Linked DNA regions of Homo sapiens. The protein of the gene in region 2 purifies or fractionates together with the protein of the main gene of each other region. This does not show direct contact. Each region holds a gene or a part of one and is shown on either strand. Other genes may lie near its edges. The genes, in order: ANGPTL8 and ANGPTL3.

Region 1 (3,972 bases), on a different chromosome or scaffold from region 2:
CCACTTAAAAAAAAGAAAAACAAAAACGAAAAAAAATTTAGGGTGACAGACAGCAGAGTTGAGGGCAATTTCTGGCCTTGGCGCCTGAGGGACACAGCCCCCAGTCCCCAGAGAACATCATGGGAGAGTCTGCCCTGACTACACAGCCCAGAAAGGGTGGGCTGAGCCAGGAGGCTCCCAGGCAGGTGCAAACCGGTTCTTCCCTTCCCAGCCCAGCTCAAGATCGACATTTCTCCGGCTCCTGAAAATCCCCACTTCTGCCTCTCCCCTGAGCTGCTTCATATCAAGCCCTACCCGGACCCCAGGGGCCGGCCCACCAAGGAGATTCTGGAGTTCCCCGCCCGCGAAGTCTATGCCCCCCATACCAGCTACAGGTACGGCCTCTGGGGCCCAGCTGGGCACTTGAATGGGAGGTATTCATACATCATGCTGGGTGGGGTCTCCCTAAGCCAAGGACACACACAGACACCCTGGGTGAGATGCCACGACTCTGCTTTAATGAGGGGTGTGTAGGCATGAAAGGGTACATGTCCTTCCTCCACCCCTCCCCAATGGGGCTACATCCTCTGCCTTTGTCCCCGCCTGCGTCTGTCTCTGCTCTGTGCTCAGAAGTGGGGCCCGGCGCCCTGGCTGATCCCAGTGAACAGGCAGCTCCTCCCTGCACAGGGGCCTCACGGGGCGTGGAAGTGTTCCTTGCAGCATGATTGGTCCTCAGTTCCATCCAGGCAGATTCAGGCTGGGAGCGCCGCTGTGTGGAGTCTGGGGAGGGAGATGTGGCTCAGCCCAGGTGAGGGGGCCCCTTTCCAGCTGCCCTGTGCGCCCCCCATCCAACTGCCCTGCCTGCCAAACCCCTGCCAGGCTCACCTCTCCTGGATCTGTCGCAGCCGATGCTGCTGTGCCACCATCTCCCGCCTCTGCCGCTGCACGTGGCCTGTGAGGGCCCATAGGATGTGGCTCTGCTTGTCAGCGTGAGCCTGTGGGGGTCAGAATGGAAACCTCAGCCGACAGCCACCTCACCTCCCATCCCCTGACCCTCTGCCCCAGCCCCTCATTGTATCTGTGTGACCCAGCAAGTCAACAATGCTCTTTGGCCTCAGTTTCCCCATCTGTAAAATGGGGATAAAATAGGACTCACTTCATGGGGAGGTGATGAACATCCTATGGATTTTTTTTTTTTTTTGAGTCTCTCTCTGTCACCCAGGCTGAGTGCAATGACACGATCTCAGCTCACTGCAACCTCCACCTCCCAGGTTCAAGCGATTCTCCTACCTAAGCCTCCTGAGTAGCTGGGACTACAGGCATGTGCCACCACGCCCAGCTAATTTTTTGTATTTTTAGTAGAGACGGGGTTTCACCATGTTGGCCAGGGTGGTCTCGAACTCCTGACCTTAAGTGTTCCACCCACCTTAGCTACCCAAAGTGCTGGGATTACAGGCATGAGCCACCATGCCCGGCCATCATATGGATTATTAAAGGGCATAGAACAGTGCTGGGTACTTACTGGGTGCTCACAAAATGTTACCAGTTTCTCTAGTAGTAAGAATTTATTGGCCAGGTGTAGTGGCTCACACCTGTAATCCCAGCACTTTGGGAAACCGAGGCAGGCAGATCCCTTGAGGTCAGGAGTTCGAGACCAGCCTGGCCAACATGGTGAAATCCCATCTCTACTAAAAAATACAAAAATTAGCTGGTGCACCTGTAATTCCAGCTACTCAGGAGGCTGAGGCAGGAGAATCACTTGAACCTAGGAGGTGGAGGTTGCAGTGAGCCAAGATCACACCACTGCACTCCAGCCTGGGCAACAGTGAGACTCTGTCTCAAAAAAAAAAAAAAAAAGAATTTATTGAGCACCAACTGTGTGCCCGCCCCATGCTGAATATTTTACCTGCATTGAGTACCTGGCCCTACTGTGAGATATCAGGTGTTGCCCTTATTTGCAACTGAGGCACACAAAAGGGAAACTGAGGCACACAAAAGGACTTGAGTTTTGTCTGGGGACATGCAGGGTAGAGGCCACAGAGCTGGGAGGCTGATCTGGGAGGTCTTTGGGACTCAAGGTGCAGAAGCGAGTTCTGGCCGGAAATCAGGGTCTCAGCCCACTAGGGTTGGGGGAGCTCCTTACCTTTAAGACCTCAAATTCTCGGTAGGCAGGGCCCAGCCAGGCGCTCCTCAGCTGGACTTCTAGCCGCTGCACGCTGTCCCGTAGCACCTTCTGTGCCTGGGCCACCTCCCCCAGCACCTCAGCTGTGGCCTCTGCCTGCAGCTGCAGAATATCCTCCTCCATCTGCTTAATAAACAGTGGGTCACTAGTAGGATGTCCAACTCATCTTTGTGTACCTAAGGACTTGCCTGAGTTTATCGCTGAAAATCTTGTATCCCAGGAATCCCTTCAGTCCTGGGCAAACCAGGATGGTTGGTTACCCTAGACACGAACTCCTCTTTGGACTCCTGGCCACCCCACAGTGTCGCAGCTACGGTGCCCACCTGAGTCTCCAACAGGCTTGCCCGAAGTTCCTGGGCTGCATCCCGGCCCCGGCTGACCTCCTGCCCCAGGAGTTCTATTGTGCGGCCATAGAGACCCAGGCTGTTCCTGGCCTTTGTCAGCCGTCCCTCCGTGGTCCTGTACACACCGTTGAGGGCCTGGCCCAGCTGCAGGGTCCCATGGAAGAGCAGGGTCAGCTCCTCATGCTGTGCCAGTTCTGGGCCGCCCATGGGGGCCGCTGAGGCAGGCCGGGTCACCATTGCCAGGGCCCAGAGCAGGCACAGAGCAGGCACTGGCATGACTGAGGGTCTAAGGTATAGCCACAGCACTGTCACTGAAGCCTTTTATGCCTCATACCCCCACTGATCCCCAGTCAATCGTTAACTGGCCGACCTGGTGCCCCGCATTGCACAAGGGCCTGGCAGTGGTGCGATAGTTGCATCAGGCGAATGTCCGGCTAGGCCACGCCGGGATCACGCTTCCTGGGGCTCAGGGCCAGGTGTGGGTGGGGGGCATTGGGAGAGGACGGGCCCCAGACCCTGCTGGGAGTTCCTGAGACTCACCATGCTGAGCCTGTTTCTCCATCTATGAATAGGCATCGCAATGATGATGGTAATAACAGTAAAGATTTTATAAGCATTGATGGTTTGCCCTGAGCTGTTTGACCTGCCATTACAATATCTGCTCTTGTTCCCCTCCCACATACTTGCCACGTGGGGGCTTTTATTGGCCTGGTTAGTATCCAAGGGGGCAGGTGCAGGTGGCAGAGACTCTCCCAAGGTCACACAGCCTGATCTCCAAGACCTGCATATGCCCAGATCACCACTGACTGCCATTTTACTCCGTGGGTGATTGTGCAAGTACCTCAGTTTCCCTGCTTGTAAAATGGCGGTGATGTTAGTCCTGCCTCATGAGCTACTTGTGAGAAGTAAATGAGTTATTTCATGTTGAGTGCTTAGAACAGAGCCTGGCACACAGTAGGCGCGATTATTTCATTGTTGTAGTAATAGTGTTTGGTGCAATTATTGTCATTGTTGTTATTTATCATCATCAGTATCATTACAAAGGCTCAGCTGGAAGGCCTGAAGTGCCCATTATACACATAGGGAAACTGAGGCCCAGAGAGGGGTCAAGGCTTGCACAGAGTTGCCCCTGGGGGAAGGAGGCAGGACTCGGACTCTGGCCTCAGTTTCCCCACCTGAGAAACAGGCCACATAACTCTAGTGACCTCCTGGGGGAAGGGCAGTCAGGCCCTTGGGTGGGGCTTAGGCTTGACCACTGGCCACCTGAGGTACCTTGGAACTCTGGCCCTGAGTGCCTCGCTATTCTCTGCCTTCTGTGTGTCACTGTGCCCCATGAGTGCCTCCAATGTCCTTCTGTATTCCCACCCTCTACCACACTGTTCCCAATCTGTGTTTTTAGGGTGCTCGCTTGTCCCCCACCCTCTGCCCTCTGTCCTATCTCCTGACTGATACCTGTATTACCTCTCA
Region 2 (4,184 bases):
AGTTACTTAAATTTTTAGAGTTTTGTTTTTTTAATTTAAATATGAGAAAGTTAAATGATCTAACTCTTCTTCCAACTCAGAAATTCATTGTTTTGGTTTCTTCACACATTTTTATTTTTAGACACAATGTATATTACTATAGTAACATTTTGCTTTGGGGAGCAGGTTCATTTAATCATAGTAAAAGATATAATTGAAAAGAATTTAGAATAATAACATCATAAGAAGGAAAGTATGGAAACCAAAAGTAGTTGATAAAAAACCTTTTAGCAGCACTACTAACATTATGTTTGTTTAGTGGAAATTGGTAATAATATTTGTTTTATATCTCTTGAAAATGATTTTGTTTACCAGTTTCTCTGAGTTTATATTATGTTTTTTGAATCCTCTTGAATAGCTGTTTGAGAGTATTATTAATATTTTTAAACTATTGTACTGCATATTAGAATACATGGATTCTGACATAGCTTTTTTCTAAACAAGTGCTTCCCTCTGTCACTTCACCAGATGTTTACATTGTAGATTAATTACATTGTTGAATGTTGACCTTTAATTATGAGGCACACTATTTCTAGTAATCCAAGTAATAATAATCATAGCACACGCTTCTGTGTGAATATGACATTACATTTATTAATTCAACAGAAATGCCTACTGTGTGCCATACAGTATTCTATATTCTGGAGTATATACAAATAATGGAAAATATGAAGATAATGGAAAAAATCCCTGTATTCACAGAGCTTACATTTTAGTGCAGGAATAGAAGAGATAAATAACTAAAATTTATGTTATGTTAAATAAAGGTGAGTGTGCAGGAGAAAAGTAGCTAAGGAAGTAGAAGTTTTCAGGGATGGGACCAGGCGGTTGTGATTTTTGGTTAAGTGACCTTGTAAGTCTTCATTGGGAATTTTTTGTTTGATAACGACCCTAAGGGAAATCAGAGAGTGGGCCACGTAGATACCAGGGCAGAAGAGCGTTCCAGTTAGAGGAAACAACAAGGGCAAAGGCTTTGAGGTGGCAGTATGTTTGATGTGTTTGAATACTGGTAAAGCGGTCAGAATAACTAGAGTAGAGGAGGTGAAGTCAGTGAGATGACGAAGGGTTGGGTAATCTTGGTCTAAAGAGCCAATATGAGTGAAATGGAAAGCTATTGTGTGGTTTTGAGCAAAGAGAAACATGATCTAATTTGAATTTTAGTAAGATGACATTGGCTGCTATGAATTAATTTTTTTTCTTACAATAATCCTATAAGTTCTGTTATTATCTTTGTAGTATATGTGAGGAAACTGAGAGATAAAGGGGTGAAGTAATTTATTCAAGGTCACACAAAGTTTTAGAGCCATGGTTTAAATGCAGGTAGTTTATTAGCTTCAGAGCCTGCAATTTTAACAGTTATGCTGATGTGATAATTTTACTCATGATCCAGTTAAAGCTTGTAAATAATTTTAGGATTCAGTGTTTTTACAGACCTGTGTGAAAGATGGGACATACCATTAAAATACTGACTTACCTGATTTTCTATTTCTTTTATTTGACTATGCTGTTGGTTTAATTGTTTATATTGGTCTTCCACGGTCTGGAGAAGGTCTTTGATGCTATTATCTTGTTTTTCTACAAAAGTCTGGATATAGAGAGTAGGTTGGTTATAAGTTGCTTTCCTCTTTCTTTTCTATTAATTTCCTGTAACACTATCATAATCTAAATTTTTAAACTAATAATGGATTTGAAAAATGAATATTGGCAATTCCTTCCCCTTGTATGCTTCTTTCAAATAGCACATATTTTTGTCCTTAACATTTTATTTAAATTGTACTATCTCTAAAATTTGATTTTCTGAACTTCAATTAAAAGAAAAAGCCCAGCATATTTTCATATGAATAAATCTTTTCCATTTACTGTATTATTTAATCTGTTTTAAACACTGGAGAATAGTTTTAAATTTTTTTTAACTTTTTACTTACCTTCAGTAATTTACAATAGTGTAATGACATAGTGTTCTAGATTGTATAATTTAACCGATTTGTAATTTTCATATAAAATGCAAATTTTCAGTGTTTTCATATATAACATTAGGGAAACAAAAAACTAACTTGAAATTATAATAGGAAATTTTATTTTCTGGAGATTATTTTTCTTGGAAAAAAAAGTATTTCAACAATGCAACAAAGTATTTCAAATGGCATGCCTTAGAAATATTTTTTTTAAAAGATCCACATTGAAAACATAAACATGAACCCTCTTTATTTTCTACTTACTTTAAGTGAAGTTACTTCTGGGTGTTCTGGAGTTTCAGGTTGATTTTGAATTAAGTTAGTTAGTTGCTCTTCTAAATATTTCACTTTTTGTTGAAGTAGAATTTTTTCTTCTAGGAGGCTTTCAAGTTTTGAGTTGAGTTCAAGTGACATATTCTTTACCTCTTCATTTTTGACTTGTAGTTTATATGTAGTTCTTCTCAGTTCCTTTTCTTCTTCTTTGATTTCACTGGTTTGCAGCGATAGATCATAAAAAGACTGATCAAATATGTTGAGTTTTTGAAATATGTCATTAATTTGGCCCTTCGTCTTATGGACAAAGTCTTTAAGACCATGTCCCAACTGAAGGAGGCCATTGGCTAAAATTTTTACATCGTCTAACATAGCAAATCTTGATTTTGGCTCTGGAGATAGAGAATCAAATGATGAATTGTCTTGATCAATTCTGGAGGAAATAACTAGAGGAACAATAAAAAGAAGGAGCTTAATTGTGAACATTTTTATCTTGATTTTCAATTTCAAGCAACGTGGAACTGTTTTCTTCTGGAAGCAGACCTAGACTTCTTAACTCTATATATACCAATATTTGCCCAGAAAAGGTAAGGTTGGTAGGTGAACATAGTTAATCATTAAGCCGTGTTAACTTGCACGAATGTAACCTTCTTCCACATTGAGTTAGATCAATGCTAAATGAAATCAAAGAAATGAGCAACTAACTTAATAGGTAATTTGAAATTGTATTTAACTTTGCTGTATTATAAACTACACATTCAATGCTATGGTGACTACCTGTTTTTAAAAGCTAATTTTACTTTTTTATGATTTTAAGAGATTTACAAGTCAAAAATAAACTTTTTTGTTGGGTAAATTTATTATTAAAGTTGAGGGGAAAAAAGTAATGAATTAAGTATGCATTTCTCAAACTGTACTTTAGTTCTTTTGGAAACAGTGATCCATTCCAAAAAACACTTTCTCTCTGAAGCCTTTCTCCACTCCCTCAGGTGGTGTTACGGCTCTCAATGCTGTGTTCCTCTGGTACTCTGTATAAATCAATGTATAATTATATGCTCCTCATTTTTTGTCACTATAATTGTTAATATGTTTTTTTGCATCACCTTATATGTCTTAACCATCCTTGTATATTGTCACAAAATCCCATATATAGTAAGTGTCATTAAAGACATTTCACTCCCTTTTCTCCACTGTGTTCTGTGTCTCTGTGTTCTAGGCTCTTTACCATGTGCTCGTTGAAGGAACAATGGATATGTGGTCATCTAGGACCAAACTAGAATTGAATCTTAAATACCTTCAATGTCACAAGCAGCTTGCCCATCATAAGTTTTTCTGAAGTTTGTTAGCTTAGTAACAATTTTGATAATATACATTTAACAAAAAGAGGAGATTAATAACATTTTTTTTTTAAAGATGATGTCTTAATGTATTGCCCATGCTGGTCTGGAAATACTGGGCTCAAGCAATTCTTTTACCTTGGCCTCCCAAAATTTACAGGCATGAGCCCAGCCGATTACAAGCGTGAGCCCAGCCAATTAATAATATTTCTAAAAATAAATGTTCCACTATGCTTCCAACTTAGTGTTAAAAAAATACTAAATGCTTATATTAGTGATTATTCTTATTGAGTGTTCATATTAAGAAATTTGTGAGAAAATAGCATCCTTTAAAACTGCTTAATCTTGACATATTAATATGGTGAAATTGTTAAGAATATGGGTGCTGGAGTCAGACTGTGGTGTGGGTCCAAAAGCCGGCTCTAGCTGTCTGGCCTTGGACAAGTTACTTAACCTCCCCATGGATTAGTCTCCTCATCTGTAAAGCTGGGGTAATTATAGTACATAATTCATAGTGTTATGATAATTTAACAATAATACATGTAGAGCACTTAGAACAGTGCTGGGCAAACAGGTAGTG

The links.
Region 1: the proteins of ANGPTL3 (region 2) and ANGPTL8 purify together in Homo sapiens (co-immunoprecipitation; one study listed by IntAct). This does not show direct contact.

Annotation. Positions count from the first base shown.
Region 1 is NC_000019.10:11,238,447-11,242,418, reverse strand, and holds ANGPTL8 (angiopoietin-like protein 8 precursor), read right to left. Parts: upstream 2,801-3,972; 5' UTR 2,782-2,800; coding exon 2,485-2,781; intron 2,285-2,484; coding exon 2,123-2,284; intron 975-2,122; coding exon 865-974; intron 760-864; coding exon 732-759; 3' UTR 476-731; downstream 1-475. Other genes in the region: DOCK6 (dedicator of cytokinesis protein 6), read left to right, coding at 212-374. UniProt on the Homo sapiens protein: Hormone that acts as a blood lipid regulator by regulating serum triglyceride levels. May be involved in the metabolic transition between fasting and refeeding: required to direct fatty acids to adipose tissue for storage in the fed state.
Region 2 is NC_000001.11:62,596,136-62,600,319, reverse strand, and holds the start of ANGPTL3 (angiopoietin-related protein 3 preproprotein), read right to left. Parts: upstream 2,801-4,184; 5' UTR 2,754-2,800; coding exon 2,259-2,753; intron 1,625-2,258; coding exon 1,514-1,624; intron 1-1,513. UniProt on the Homo sapiens protein: Acts in part as a hepatokine that is involved in regulation of lipid and glucose metabolism. Proposed to play a role in the trafficking of energy substrates to either storage or oxidative tissues in response to food intake.